Regions from separate parts of the Homo sapiens genome. Here regions 1 and 3 are each linked to region 2. Evidence: fine-mapped expression QTL. A gene starts in region 2. Each other region holds a variant in brackets. All regions are shown on one strand. Distances are from middle to middle.

Region 1 (4,245 bases), 56 kb after region 2:
CGAGGATGTAGAACTAATAAGTGGCAGAGCTAGAATTCAAACCAAGGTCTAGCTGCAAAGTTTTTTGATAAGCTGGTCTCACCTAATTCCATTTGTTGTCCAGTTTTAGTCCCATTACTACTGTCATCCTTGCTCATCTCAAAGTCATTCAATAGGCGCACATTTTTTAAATAGCACTTTCCATGTGCTTACTTGATTTACTCTGACAGACTTCCATGTTATCTCTCCAATGGTTATGGAATAATGTCTAGACCCCCGATTCCAGCATTCAGGGCTTTTCACACTGTGGCCATAGTCCATTGTCCCAACCTAACAGAAAGTGCTTTTCCATATCTGTCTTTGTTAACACTGCTGTATTTGTAATGGCCTTCCCTGACACTTTTATCTTTCCAGATTCTTTTCCTCTATCAATTCCAATTCAAGTAATAAATTTTTCATTCAGGTATCTGTTACAACTCAGGAACAGGACTCCATGCCCTCCCCCATTTAGCCAGTTGAGTGACTGGGGCTTCCCAAAATTGGACTCAGAAAGCCTTTTAGTACTCTGAAAATACTTAAAGAAAAGCAAAATTATAACAACTGTCAGACAGTACACTAAAAGCTTTCATGCTGGTAAATATATTTATTTCTTGTGAAACATGCTAGAGGATTATTTTAAGAGACAATTTTGTTTTATTTTACAGGTGTTGCGGTATACACTGGAATGGAAACTAAGATGGCATTAAATTACAAGAGCAAATCACAGAAACGATCTGCAGTAGAAAAGTAAGAAAACTGTTTTCATTTATTTATATGTAATTATAACTCTACATTTTTTATTCGTTTGGTATAAAATATTATATATATAATATATATTAAGTAAACAGAATGAAAACCTTGGGGACAGTGATAGTTTCTTATATTTTTACATACAAGTAACATTTTGCACAGTATTGGACATGTAGTAAATGCTCTATAGTATGACTTTTAAAATAAATACTATTGAATAAATGGTGGAATCACTTAATCACACTAACGCAGATAACAGTTCTAAAACTGAAAAAAAAATTTAAATAAACAACTATTTGAAAACATTGGAGACAAACCAGAATCGAATAGAAATGGGCAAGGAGTGTAATCCTGAAAGATGATAGCAGCAAGGGGGAAAATTTAAGAGTATAGCTTTTTGCCTGAGGGCACTCCCCAGTTTATGTGCTGCTTGGGACATCAAAAAGTCTGAACTTTACTGGATAGAAGTATCAGAGGACAAGGTTAATAGCTGGAAGAGCAGCTGGAAAGTTAGGGGAAAATAATGTAAGGGGATTAGCATTAATTCCCTTCTGTAAGCAATGAGATGTAAGCTACAGAATGGAATTAACTCTAAAAACTGCACATAAATTCTGCCCAGGTCCTTGGCTGACTGCTAGAACTATACATGTGCAAGGGAGACAAAAGAACTCAACAGAATTTTACTGCTGCCCATTGCATTGGAGACACAGTTTGTTGAACTAGGTGAAGTTAACTTCCTACTGGAATAAAAATAGCACTCTTCTGAGGAACATAAAAGAATACAGACTGTCTACAATGTATTATTATGAAGTCCAGTCTGCAATAAAAAATAAGCAGAATATGAAGAAAATGTAATTCATCCATAAGATAAAAAGCACTCAATAGAAACTGTCTCCAAAATGATCCAGATCTTGCATTTAGCAGACGAGAACTTTAAAGCAGATATTATAAATTTATTATAAACATGTTTAAGGGCCTAAAGGAAAATTTGAATGAACATATGGGAAAACACAGCAGAGAAATGAAAACTCTTGACTTGAAAAACATAATTACTAAAATGGAAACATCATTAGGTGGGTCTCAACACCAGACTGAATAAATCAGACCAGTGAACTTGAAGAAAACACAAATTACTCAGTCGAAGAATGGAGAGGAAAAAAGATTAGGAAAAATGAACAGAGCTTCAGAGCCATGTGGGATAATATTAAGCTGTTTGGCATATGTGTAATTGATTCCCAAAAAAAGAGAAAAAAGGACAGAATAAAAATATTTGAAAAAATAATGACTGAAAATTTCTAAAATTTGAGGAAGAAACTTCAGCCTACGCTACCAAGATCAGCAAACTCTAAGCAGGAAAAATATAAAGAAATATAAAGAAACCCACACCAAAGCACATCATGGTCAAAATACTAGAATCCAAAGAAAAAGAAAATATTTCATGGAGCCGAAGAGAAATG[C/CGTG]ATCACATGTAAATGAATAACAATATAAGCGATAACCAGTTCTCATCAGAAACAACGGAGGACATTGGGGAAAGGACATCCTCTTCAGGAAATGATGCTGGGAAAATTGGATAGCTACATGCAGAAGAATGAAACTGGATCCCTATCTTTCACCATATAAATAATCAACTCAACGCTGAGCACGGTGGCTCATGCCTGTAATCCTAGCACTTTGGGAGACCAAGGCAGGAGGATCACTTGAGGTCAGGAGTTCGAGACCAGCCTGGCCAACATGGTGAAACTCCGTCTCTACTAAAAATACAAAAATCAGCCGGGTGTGGTGGCGGGTGCCTGTAGTCCCAGCTACTCAGGAGGCTGAGGCAGGAGAATTGTTTGAACCTGGGAGGCAGAGGTTGCAGTGAGCTGAGATCACGCCACTGCACTCCAGCCTGGGCAACAGAGCGAGACTCCATCTCAAAAAACAAAACAAAACAAAAAAAAAGTGTATCAAAACCACAATGAGATGTCATCTTGCCAGCCAGAATGGCTATTATTAAAAAGACAAAAAATAAATAAATAAATAAATAACAGATGCTGGCAGGGATATGGAGAAAAGAAAACTCTTATACGTGGTTGGTGGGCATGTAAGTTAGGATAGCCACTATGGAAAATAGCCTGGAGATGTCTCAAAAAACTAAAAACGTAATTACCATATGATCCAACAATCCCACTACTGGGTTTTATCCAAAGAAAAAGAAATCAGTATATCAAAGGAATATCTGCACTTGCATGTTTATTGCAGCACTATTCATAATAGCAAAGATAAGGATTCAATCTAACGGTCCATCAGCAGACGGATGGATAAAAAAATGTATACATACCTAAAAAAAAAGGTATACATACCCACACAATGGAATACTATTTGGCCATAAGAAGAATGAAATCGTGTCATTAGCAGCAACATGGATGTAACTGAAGATCATTATGTTAAGTGATACAAGCAAGCACAGAAAGACACTTCATTAGTGGCACACACCCGTAATCCCAGCACTTTGGGAGGCTGAGGTGGGTGGATCACTTGAAGTCAGGAGTTCAAGGCCAATCTAGTCAACATGGCAAAACCCTGTCTCTACTAAATATGCAAAATTAGCTGGGTGTGGTAGTGTGCGCCTGTAGTCCCAGCTGCCTGGGAGGCTGAAGCAGAGAATTGCTTGAACCCAGGAGGCAGAGGTTTCAGTGAGCCGAGATCGCACCACTGAACTCCAGCCTGGGTGACAGAGCGAGACTCCATCTCAAAAAATAAAAAAAGACTCTTTATAAATATTTTTCAAAGAACCAACTTTTGGCTTTAATTTTGTGTATTTTTTTTCTCTTTTCCATTGCCTTCAGCTCACATCTTCAATTAATTTCCTCCGTTTCTTCTCAATTTGGGTCTAATTATTTCTCTTTAACTTCTTGTGATGCTAGATGAACTCAAATGATTAATTTTAAGCTTTCTTTTTCCCTTACATAAACAGCACAAAAGATGATGGGGGGCTTTAAATGAACTGTTACAAAGGTCTTACATTTTACATGAAATAATACAATAGCATCTATAAATTACAATAAGGTAAAGATGCATATTCTGACCTCTAGAGCTTCCATTAAAAACAATAAGGCAAAGATTTATAGCTAATAAGTTAGAGCAACTGAATATTAAAATGTTTGGTAAACACAGTAAACAGCAAGAAAGGAAGAACAGCGAAACAAAAAACCAAATGAGAGAATAGAAAACAAATAGCAAAATGGTGGTCCGAAATTTGACCAAAAATTACATGAGATATAAATGCATCAAACAGTCTAATGAAGTCAGAGATTGTCAGATTGGATAAAAGAGCCAGACCCAACTATATGCTGTCTAGAAGAAATACAGTTTACATACAAAGATATAAATAGGTTGACATCAAAAGATATACTATGTATATTGTAAGCCTATGAAAACTGAACACTAGAATAGTTCCATAATTATACATGGAAAGTTCATCTAGACAGATCATATGAT
Region 2 (4,245 bases):
AGGACCTGGGTGCTCCATGAATGGACACAGTGCTCCATGAATGGCAGTAAGGTTTTGTCACTAAATATATCTCAAAACTTCCTTTTAGGGTCATAAAGTAAGGTTTAGCCACAAGAATAAAAGTAAGATGACTTTTCAAATATCTAGCTATTTTTTGAAGTTGGATGATTTATAATATAAAATTCCATGTTGGTTTTACAGATCATAAATATCCCCAAAGAAAGATTCTATTTGTGGTGCTGGATAAGCATTATATAGTAAGAAATGTCTACTGAAACTAGAAGATTGAGGATGCATATTCAACGACCTGCCTAGTCATGCTAATCTCATTTAGATTTGTTCTTGCTTAATTTTTTTTTTTTTTTTTTTTTTTTGAGACGGAGTCTCCTTCTGCCGCCCAGGCTGGAGTGCAGTGGCGCCATCTCGGCTCACTGCAAGCTCTGCCTCCCGGGTTCACGTCATTCTCCTGCCTCAGCCTCCCGAGTAGCTGGGACTACAGGCGACCGCCACCACGCTCGGCTAATGTTTTGTATTTTTTAGTAGAGATGGGGTTTCGCCATGTTAGCCAGGAAGGTCTCGATCTCCTGACCTCGTGATCCACCCGCCTCGGCCTCCCAAAGTGCTGGGATTACATGGGATTACAGGCGTGAGCCACCGCGCCCGGCCGCTTAATTTTTTTTTTTTTAACCACAAACGTCTGTCGGTGAAGTGTGCTTTAATTCAGCAAAAATACAGCATTCAATACATATACATAACACAATATGTATACGGGGCTGCTTTTAAACAACGCCAAACCTTTAAGTCAAAGCCTTGTTCCAGTTGCTTGTATATTCCTTCTGAGCTTGTCATCCACACACTTTTTTAACCTAGGTCAAGTTACTGCTACGGGTGTTTTTGATTGCAGAAGTTTGGCAGTTAGCAGTAAAGAACTACCTTTTTATACAAATTATCTTCCCCTGAACCTGTCCAATTTAGCACACGGCAAGACAGAATATCTCATCCATTCGCCTAGAAACACGGGTCCAGGCTGTACCAGGCTCAGGGGACTTGCAACGCTTTCGAATCACTTAATGGGTGTGATCAAGATTTCCCTAGCCCCGTCTCAGCCATTTGCTAAAGAAGAGGCCTGACTTGTGTTGAGACGAAAGCTCTTACAGCTTGATGGAACCCAAACTGGGACTTCTGGGGGGATTAACTTTCAGTCACATACGTTCAGGACTGTGCGTATGCGTGTCGGGAGACGCGTGAACCAAAGAAGCCACAGAGCCCGAAAAAGACCTGCAACAGGAGGTAGAGACCGAGGAATCGGCCCCAAGCTGCAGACTCCGGAGATGGCCAGACCCACAGACACGACTTAATCCCACTCCCAGAACGGGGAGGAGGGTGGCAGTGGACAGAAACAGCGTTCGAGAACCCGGCACCTTTCCACGCTCGCTTCTTCCCGGACCCACAACACAGAAACCCCCCAACTCGGAACGGCGGCGGGGCGCGCCAGGCCCCCCTCGGTCCGCGCACCCCCTTTCGTCACGTCCGGGGGCGGGCCGGGGCGCCGGGGGCGGTCCCGGGTGGAGCCGGGGGGCCGGGCGGGGCGGGGCGGGGGTGGGGTTGCGGGGGTGCTTTGGGTGACAACGGTCAATAATGAAGGTGGCTGCGGCGCGGCGGCAGGCTCAGCTGCGCCGGGCGGGGGCGGCGCCGGGGCCGCGCCTGTAGGACTCGGGGCCGACGCCGCGGGATGGGGACGCGGCGCGGGGAGTGAGGCAGTGGCGGCGGCGGCGGTAAGCGGAACTTCGGCCCGAGGGGCTCGCCCGCTCCCGCCTCTGTCTTGTCGGCCTCCACCTGCAGCCCCGCGGCCCCCGCGCCCCGCGGGACCCGGACGGCGACGACGGGGGAATGTGGCGCTGGATCCGGCAGCAGCTGGTAGGTGCCCCCGCCCCTCCACCTCCATTCGTCCGCCCCCGCGGGGCCTCTCGGCCCGGGGTGGCGGGGAAAGGCCGGCGGCGCGGAGCCGGGAGGCCAGGGCGTGGGCGCCCGGCTAGGCCGCAGCGGAGACGGGCGCGGGGCCCAGAGCCGGAGAAGCCCCGTGCGGCTCCCGGGCTCGTCTCGCCTCCAAGCCCGGGCCGCCGAGGCTGGCGCCGAGCGGCCGGAGGCGGCCGCTTCTAGCCGGCGCTTCTCCGTTACTTCTTCCCCCTTGCCGCTCCGGGGCTGCTGTGGCCAGAGGCGGGAGTCCCGAGCGGGGTGGCGGTGCCCCCAGAGGAAACAGGGCGAGGGAGCTGAGCGAGAGTAGGTCTTGGGGAGATGAGAGAGGCGTGCTCTTCCTGCCTCGAACAATTTGGGACGTGTTTGGGTGAAGGGGAAGCGAAGAACCTGTCTTCTGCCCCCACTCGTCACGGACTTCTGGAAGCGTGTCACGATCCAGAGCTGTGTTGATTCCCGAGGAGGAGGCTGTCGTAGGTGTCTAGCCCCCTCAGCGAGAGACGTTTCTCCCCAGGACCTGGAAAGGGGAAAGACTGTGCCAGCTGCCGGTCTAGCTTCGGAAACGATACGTATTGTACGATAGTTACGAACGATACGTACTGTCGTTTCCTTCCTACCTCGTCCTCACCCCACCCCGAGTGAAACTTTTCGAGTGTGAACCTTACTTTTTTCCCGTTCTCCTCAAGGCAGTTTGAACGACACAGGTTTGGAAGGAATAGTTAACTCTCCAGTATTATTGGAACATCTGGACACCACCAACAAAAAATCTTAGAAAAGGGTCATTTAAGGCCTATAAAAAGTGCCACCTTTCCCAGAATTAATTCAGAGAGAAAAATCTTATCTGCCTCCTGGCAGCTACAGCGCAGAAAGTACAGCATTAAGGCAGCTGTGACAATTAGGACAGAAATTGCCCCTGGCTGAAGAAGCCTAACCTTATCTGTGTGATGAGGCCGGTTACTATTTAATTTCTAAATCGCATTAACTTAATGCTTCTACAAGTTGGCGTTTTCATTTACTAATTCTAAAGGCAGTGGTAAAATTTAGTGAAACAGGAACTATTTTTGTGGGACGAAAGCACTGATAACTCTTTTTCCCTTCTGCTCTAGAAAAGCATTTTAACGTTAAGACCAAGAAGTGTGGTGTTTCAGAGCCAGCCTTCTGTTACTTCGTTTTGCAGCGGGCATCATTCTCAAAAAAAAAAAAAAATTATAAATAAGAACTGCCTACCACTCCCTCCTACAAATGTTGGGTCTCTGTTTTTAGCATTGTAAATTCAGATATCCCAGATATATGCTTTATTAGGAAACCAAGCTAATGATGTCATTATAATACCATCTTGTAATACTTTGGCTTTGTTGCAGTAAGCTGTAGCACAGTAATTTTACTCAGAAAGTTAATTATTACAGATTTGATCTTATGCTTTTGATTTGCCAAATCTTCTTGTATAGAGGGCTGATTTACCTGATGGTGTTTTTGTGTGGTAGGAAGATCATTTTAAAGTGGTTCTCTTGAAGCTTTTTTAAAAATGTATTGAGACATCCTTTCTCACTGTTAGGTATTTTTTAGCCAGAATAAAATCCTGGTTGTATAACCATGCTCATCTTCAAGACAGAAAACCTGGTAATGTTTTTTAAAATGGCTTCAAATGAACCCAGCTAAAAGGAAGGGCCGGAAGTTGTGTGTGGTTATTTTACAAGGCAGCCGTCTTAACAGGGATGGTTAACGAGTTGAACAAGTTCCTGTGCATAAAAAATGCTATCTCTGACATTTAGTTGCTCACCTCACTGGTTTTAAGTTATCAGATCCTCTAAGTATGTAATCATACTTGGGCCAATGTAGGACTTTGTGTCTCTGGTTAAGTTTGTATGATCACATAAATTAAACATCAAGGACCCTGGATACAGAGTAATGAAAGTATATTTTGCTATCCCAGTCATAGACAGCTATTCTGATTACTGCACCAGAAATTATTCAACTCAGGTAAAAGCTAGTTTAGATTATACTTCCAGTGGCTTAATGGATTGAATCACCACGACTTTCAGCAATGGGTTTATTTTAAAATGCAGATAACTAGGACAAATTTGGGGAAATTGACAAGCAAATCCTAAGGACAGGTTGGAGTTATAAGCATATTTAATTCGTTATATGAATCCCGATTTTCAACTAATGTCTCACAAAAAAGTCCTTTTATTACAGAAACAATGCCTATGTTCTAGTAATTTCTTTTTAATTAAAAAAAAGTGTGACTCCTTATGACAAAATATTTTCACT
Region 3 (4,245 bases), 31 kb after region 2:
GTTTCAGCTTTCTACATATGGCTAGCCGGTTTTCCCAGCACCATTTATTAAATAGGGACTCCTTTCCCCATTTCTTGTTTTTGTCAGGTTTGTCAAAGATCAGATGGTTGTAGATGTGTGGTATTATTTCTGAGGGCTCTGTTCTGTTCCATTGGTCTATATATCTGTTTTGGTACCAGTACCATGCTGTTTTGGTTACTGTAGCCTTGTAGTATAGTTTGAAGTCAGGTAGCGTGATGTCTTCAGCTTTGTTCTTTTGGCTTAGGATTGTCTTGGCAATGCGGGCTCTTTTTTGGTTCCATATGAACTTTAAAGTAGTTTTTTCCAGTTCTGTGAAGAAAGTCATTGGTAGCTTGATGGGGATGGCATTAAATGTATAAATTACCTTGGGCAGTATGGCCATTTTCACGATGTTGATTCTTCCTATCCATGGCCATGGAATGTTCATCCATTTGTTTGTAGTGACACAGTTCTTAAGAAATTATGCAAGAAATAAAAGCTCTTGAAAACTTTAGGTTTTTTTTTTAACTTGGGGTATAATTTACATACAGTAAAATTTATCAGTTTTAAGTGTGCAGTTTGATGAGTTTTGACAAATCTGACCACCGCCATAATCAAGATGTGGAATATATCCATTGCTTCAAAAAAAATCTTTCATGGTCTTTTGCAGCAGGTCCCCCTCCTCCTCACCCCCCAGGCACTAGCAACCACTGATCTGCTTTCTGTAACTATAGTTTTTTCTTTTCTAGAATTTCATATAATACAACACAAGTCTTTTGTGCCTGACTTCTTTTTTCGTAACATAATGCTTTTGGGGTTCATTTTTGTTGTTGCAAGTATTAGTATCAGTAATTCATTCCTTTCTAGTGCATAGTTTAGCTGTCAGCCTGGAATTGTGTAGTTAATGTTTTGAATATAAGCCATTTTCTTTGTGTGGTTCTCTGACAATCAGTATTTTCCCTTTACATTTCCAGCTGCTTTTCCAGCCCTGAACTCTAATCTTGGTTACATGTTGTTGATGAGGCTGTAGTTTTCCCCAGCTGTTTTGCAGCCATTGTTGTGTGTGGTAGGTGGATACTGTCTCCAAGCTAAGAAGCCAAAAATTCACAATTTATACTTCTTCCATTTGCAATTTTTTGAAATTAAACTCTCTTCCCGTTTCCATCTATATTTTGGACATTTTCCAGTATTTGACATAGTTTTTAAAATGTAATCTTTATAATTCTTATCTGCTGGGAGTCCACAGGACCACCTCTTTGTCAATAGTGGAAACTGAGTGTCCTCCTAGAAAGCTTTTGGGATTAAATAAGTATCTTTAAATGACTGTCTCTGTACACAGAAGTATTTGGTTTAATGTTTTTGACCATATTTTTTAAAATGTGGATGTTTAAAGAAGTATTGCCTTTTTAAATGTTTACGGTAAATGAGGACTGTCTCATTACTACCTATTACGCCACTATTGCTTTCATAAACTCCTTCCAAAACAGATTACCTGTTATTCCACAAACTCATGTTGAACTTTCCTACCACTGTGCCTTTGCTTTGATTTCATGTTGTTAGCCACAATTTTTAAAATGTAAATTTTATGTATTTGTGGACATTGTAGATTTTATGTTTTTGTAGAAAGGTAGAATTCATATCTTTGACCATAATTTCAAGAATGTAAATATTTATACAGATACTGTCACTTTTTTCCTGAGCATAAATGAAGCCTGCTTCTCATTACTTTCATTTTACTACCTTTCACTCCCCTGTTATTCTCTTGGTCTCCTTCCAGACTGCATTGTTTTCTATCTCACAAAGCCATGATGAGCTTTTCTCCTGTCCCTTTGCTCATGCTGTCCTAGCTTCCTGAAATGTTCTCCCTTATTTGCCCTGGATTTTCAGCCTGTTGAATGTTCTTCTTTTAAAGCACATGTCAAATATGACTGTCTTGTTAAATTTTTTTCATACACTTTACCTTTGAATACAGCTATTAATGTTTTGTTCTTAATCTCCTCTACTTAATATTAAACATCTTATTTCTGTTTCTCTTATTGTGGAAGTGTCTTGCATGTTGTGGTTGTGTGGTATGTCTTTAACTGGCCATAGTAACTACATTATCTTAAATTTAAACTTTCTTTGGCCATGTGTAGTGGCACACACCTGTAATCCTAGTACTTTGGGAGGCCAAGGTGGGCGGATCACTTGAGGCCAGGAGTTTGAGAACAGCCTGGCCAACAGGGTGAAACCCCGTCTCTACTAAAAAAATACAAAAAAATTAGCCAGGTGTGGTGGCGGTTGCCTGTAGTCCCAGCTACTTGGGAGGCTGAGGCAGGAGAATGGCATGAACCCAGGAGGCGGAGCTTGTAGTGAACAGAGATCGAGCCACTGCACTCCAGCCTGGGTGACTGAGTGAGACTCTGTCTCAAAAAAAAAAAAAAAAAATACAGAAAAATTAGCCAGGTGTGGTGGTGCATGCAAGTAGTCCCAGCTACTCAGGAGTCTGAGACATGAGAATCGCTTGAACTCAGGAGGCGGAGGTTGCA[G/T]TGGGCCAAGATTGCGCCACTGCACTCCAGCCTGGGCAGACAGAGTGAGACTGTCTCAAAAAAATAAAATAAAATAACCTTCTTGCAAAATATTTAATTTTATAGCCATGTTTTAGTTTTCTTAGGAGAAAATAAGGTCAATTATAAAGTCATATATGACTATAGAGAAGTTACACTTCTAATTCATTTGTCTTAACCATTATTACATAACAAAGAGAACTTTAAAGCATAATAAATTATTTTCTTAGCAGTATTTTCATAATGTTTGATATTATGCTACTAGAGTTCTCCCTCTCTATACAATAGGACAAGCACAGAATTTAGACTCATTCACAATCTATTATGTTTGTATTTCAGAAAAACTAGAAACAATTTCTACCATTTATGTGCTAGTTTTCATAAGAAATTTTTATTTGTTCTGAGTTGTTCCTTGTATTATTGAACTAGCCAAAGAAAACACCCTGAAACCAATTACTTTACTGCCAATTTATATAGCTGTTCTCTTCAGGATTCTGGAATACAAAATATATTGTTGCTGTTACGTTTCAAATAGATTGCTGTAAACTTAGGAGACTTCCAACCTTCCTTATAAAGTATTATACATTTGGTGACTGAGATACTCTGACAACTGATTTTTAATTCCAATTAAGATCACCTGCAGGTGACTTGACACACAATTACCATCTCATGTGTATACATTGAACATTGACTTCCTTTGGCTCCAGGAAGTATCTACCTCTCTTCTTTCTAGAGCCCTAAACATACTTCCCATCCTCAGATTCTGGAACCACTGCTGCCGCCACTACTCAGGGAAAATATGTTTCACATATTCCAGATTCAAACTGAAAATATAATTTCACCAAAGAAGGAAAGTTTGTTGCTATTGGACTAGTCTTTCCATATCCCTGGGTCAGATAGGCTTTTGTGGGCTTTTCTGGGAACCTAACTCTGTTTATAAGGTTGTTCATGTGGGAAACAGTGTTTCAGGTCTCAAACAGCTAATTAAGAAGTGAACTTTTGACAATGAAAATCCAAAAATTAGAGCCATCTGACATGACACTAGGTAACGTAAAGTACCTCTTTGGAAATCTTGAATTGGTCAGTAACCATTGAGGCCTCATTGCCTGAGATCAGGATATTATCTCAGAAAAAACCCGTTGTCAACCATATTTATTTATTCATTAATCTATTCTGCAAAATATTTGATCTCTACCTATGTGCCAAGGAGTAGTATATGTGCTAGAGATAGAACAGTAAATAAAATGATATCCCTGGCCTCAGGGATCTTATATTCTTCTGGGAGGATGTACATAAAGTAAACATTCTATAAATCAATTTCCCTGTTTCATGTATGAAGTTATGTTGTGAGTTGTAACACAAATAAAATTTGCAGCATATTATTCTGCCCTTGTAATACAGCATTATAGGTTTTTGAGCTGAGTAATAATAATAAGCACTTTTATAGCAATTAGTATGAGCCAGGTTCTGTCCTAAGTGCTTCTTCAGTATGTTAGCTGATTTAATGTTTATAGGAACCCTATAAGATATGATTAATATTATCCTCATTTTATAGAGGAGCAAAGTGGGACACGGAGAGATTAAGTCCAAGGTCATTTAGTGAGTATTACAAATTAAGATTTGGGCCACCACAGTTTAACCCCAAGCATCTATGCTTTTAACCATTGTGCTATACTATCTTACCTTTTAAAATTGATAT

The links. PIP is the estimated chance that this variant, and not a neighbour inherited with it, causes the effect.
Region 1: its variant is the best candidate, but not a certain one, in a credible set for the expression of ATP11B in whole blood (INTERVAL, PIP 0.86).
Region 3: its variant is the best candidate, but not a certain one, in a credible set for the expression of ATP11B in whole blood (INTERVAL, PIP 0.83).

The regions. Positions count from the first base shown.
Region 1 is chr3:182,847,793-182,852,037 of GRCh38, forward strand. It overlaps ATP11B (ATPase phospholipid transporting 11B (putative)), which reads left to right. Exons shown (of 30, transcript NM_014616.3): 10 at 684-765. Among named protein-coding and RNA genes, the nearest start is that of ATP11B, 56 kb to the left of the region's middle. The variant C/CGTG (reference allele first, on the strand shown) is at 2,226.
Region 2 is chr3:182,791,870-182,796,114 of GRCh38, forward strand. It overlaps ATP11B (ATPase phospholipid transporting 11B (putative)), which reads left to right and starts at 1,635. Exons shown (of 30, transcript NM_014616.3): 1 at 1,635-1,917. The coding sequence starts at 1,891. It overlaps ATP11B-DT (ATP11B divergent transcript), which reads right to left and starts at 1,495. Exons shown (of 3, transcript NR_187316.1): 1 at 1,211-1,495. RefSeq lists a silencer at 1,470-2,219.
Region 3 is chr3:182,823,314-182,827,558 of GRCh38, forward strand. All of the region lies in intron 2 of ATP11B (ATPase phospholipid transporting 11B (putative)), which reads left to right. Among named protein-coding and RNA genes, the nearest start is that of ATP11B, 32 kb to the left of the region's middle. The variant G/T (reference allele first, on the strand shown) is at 2,529.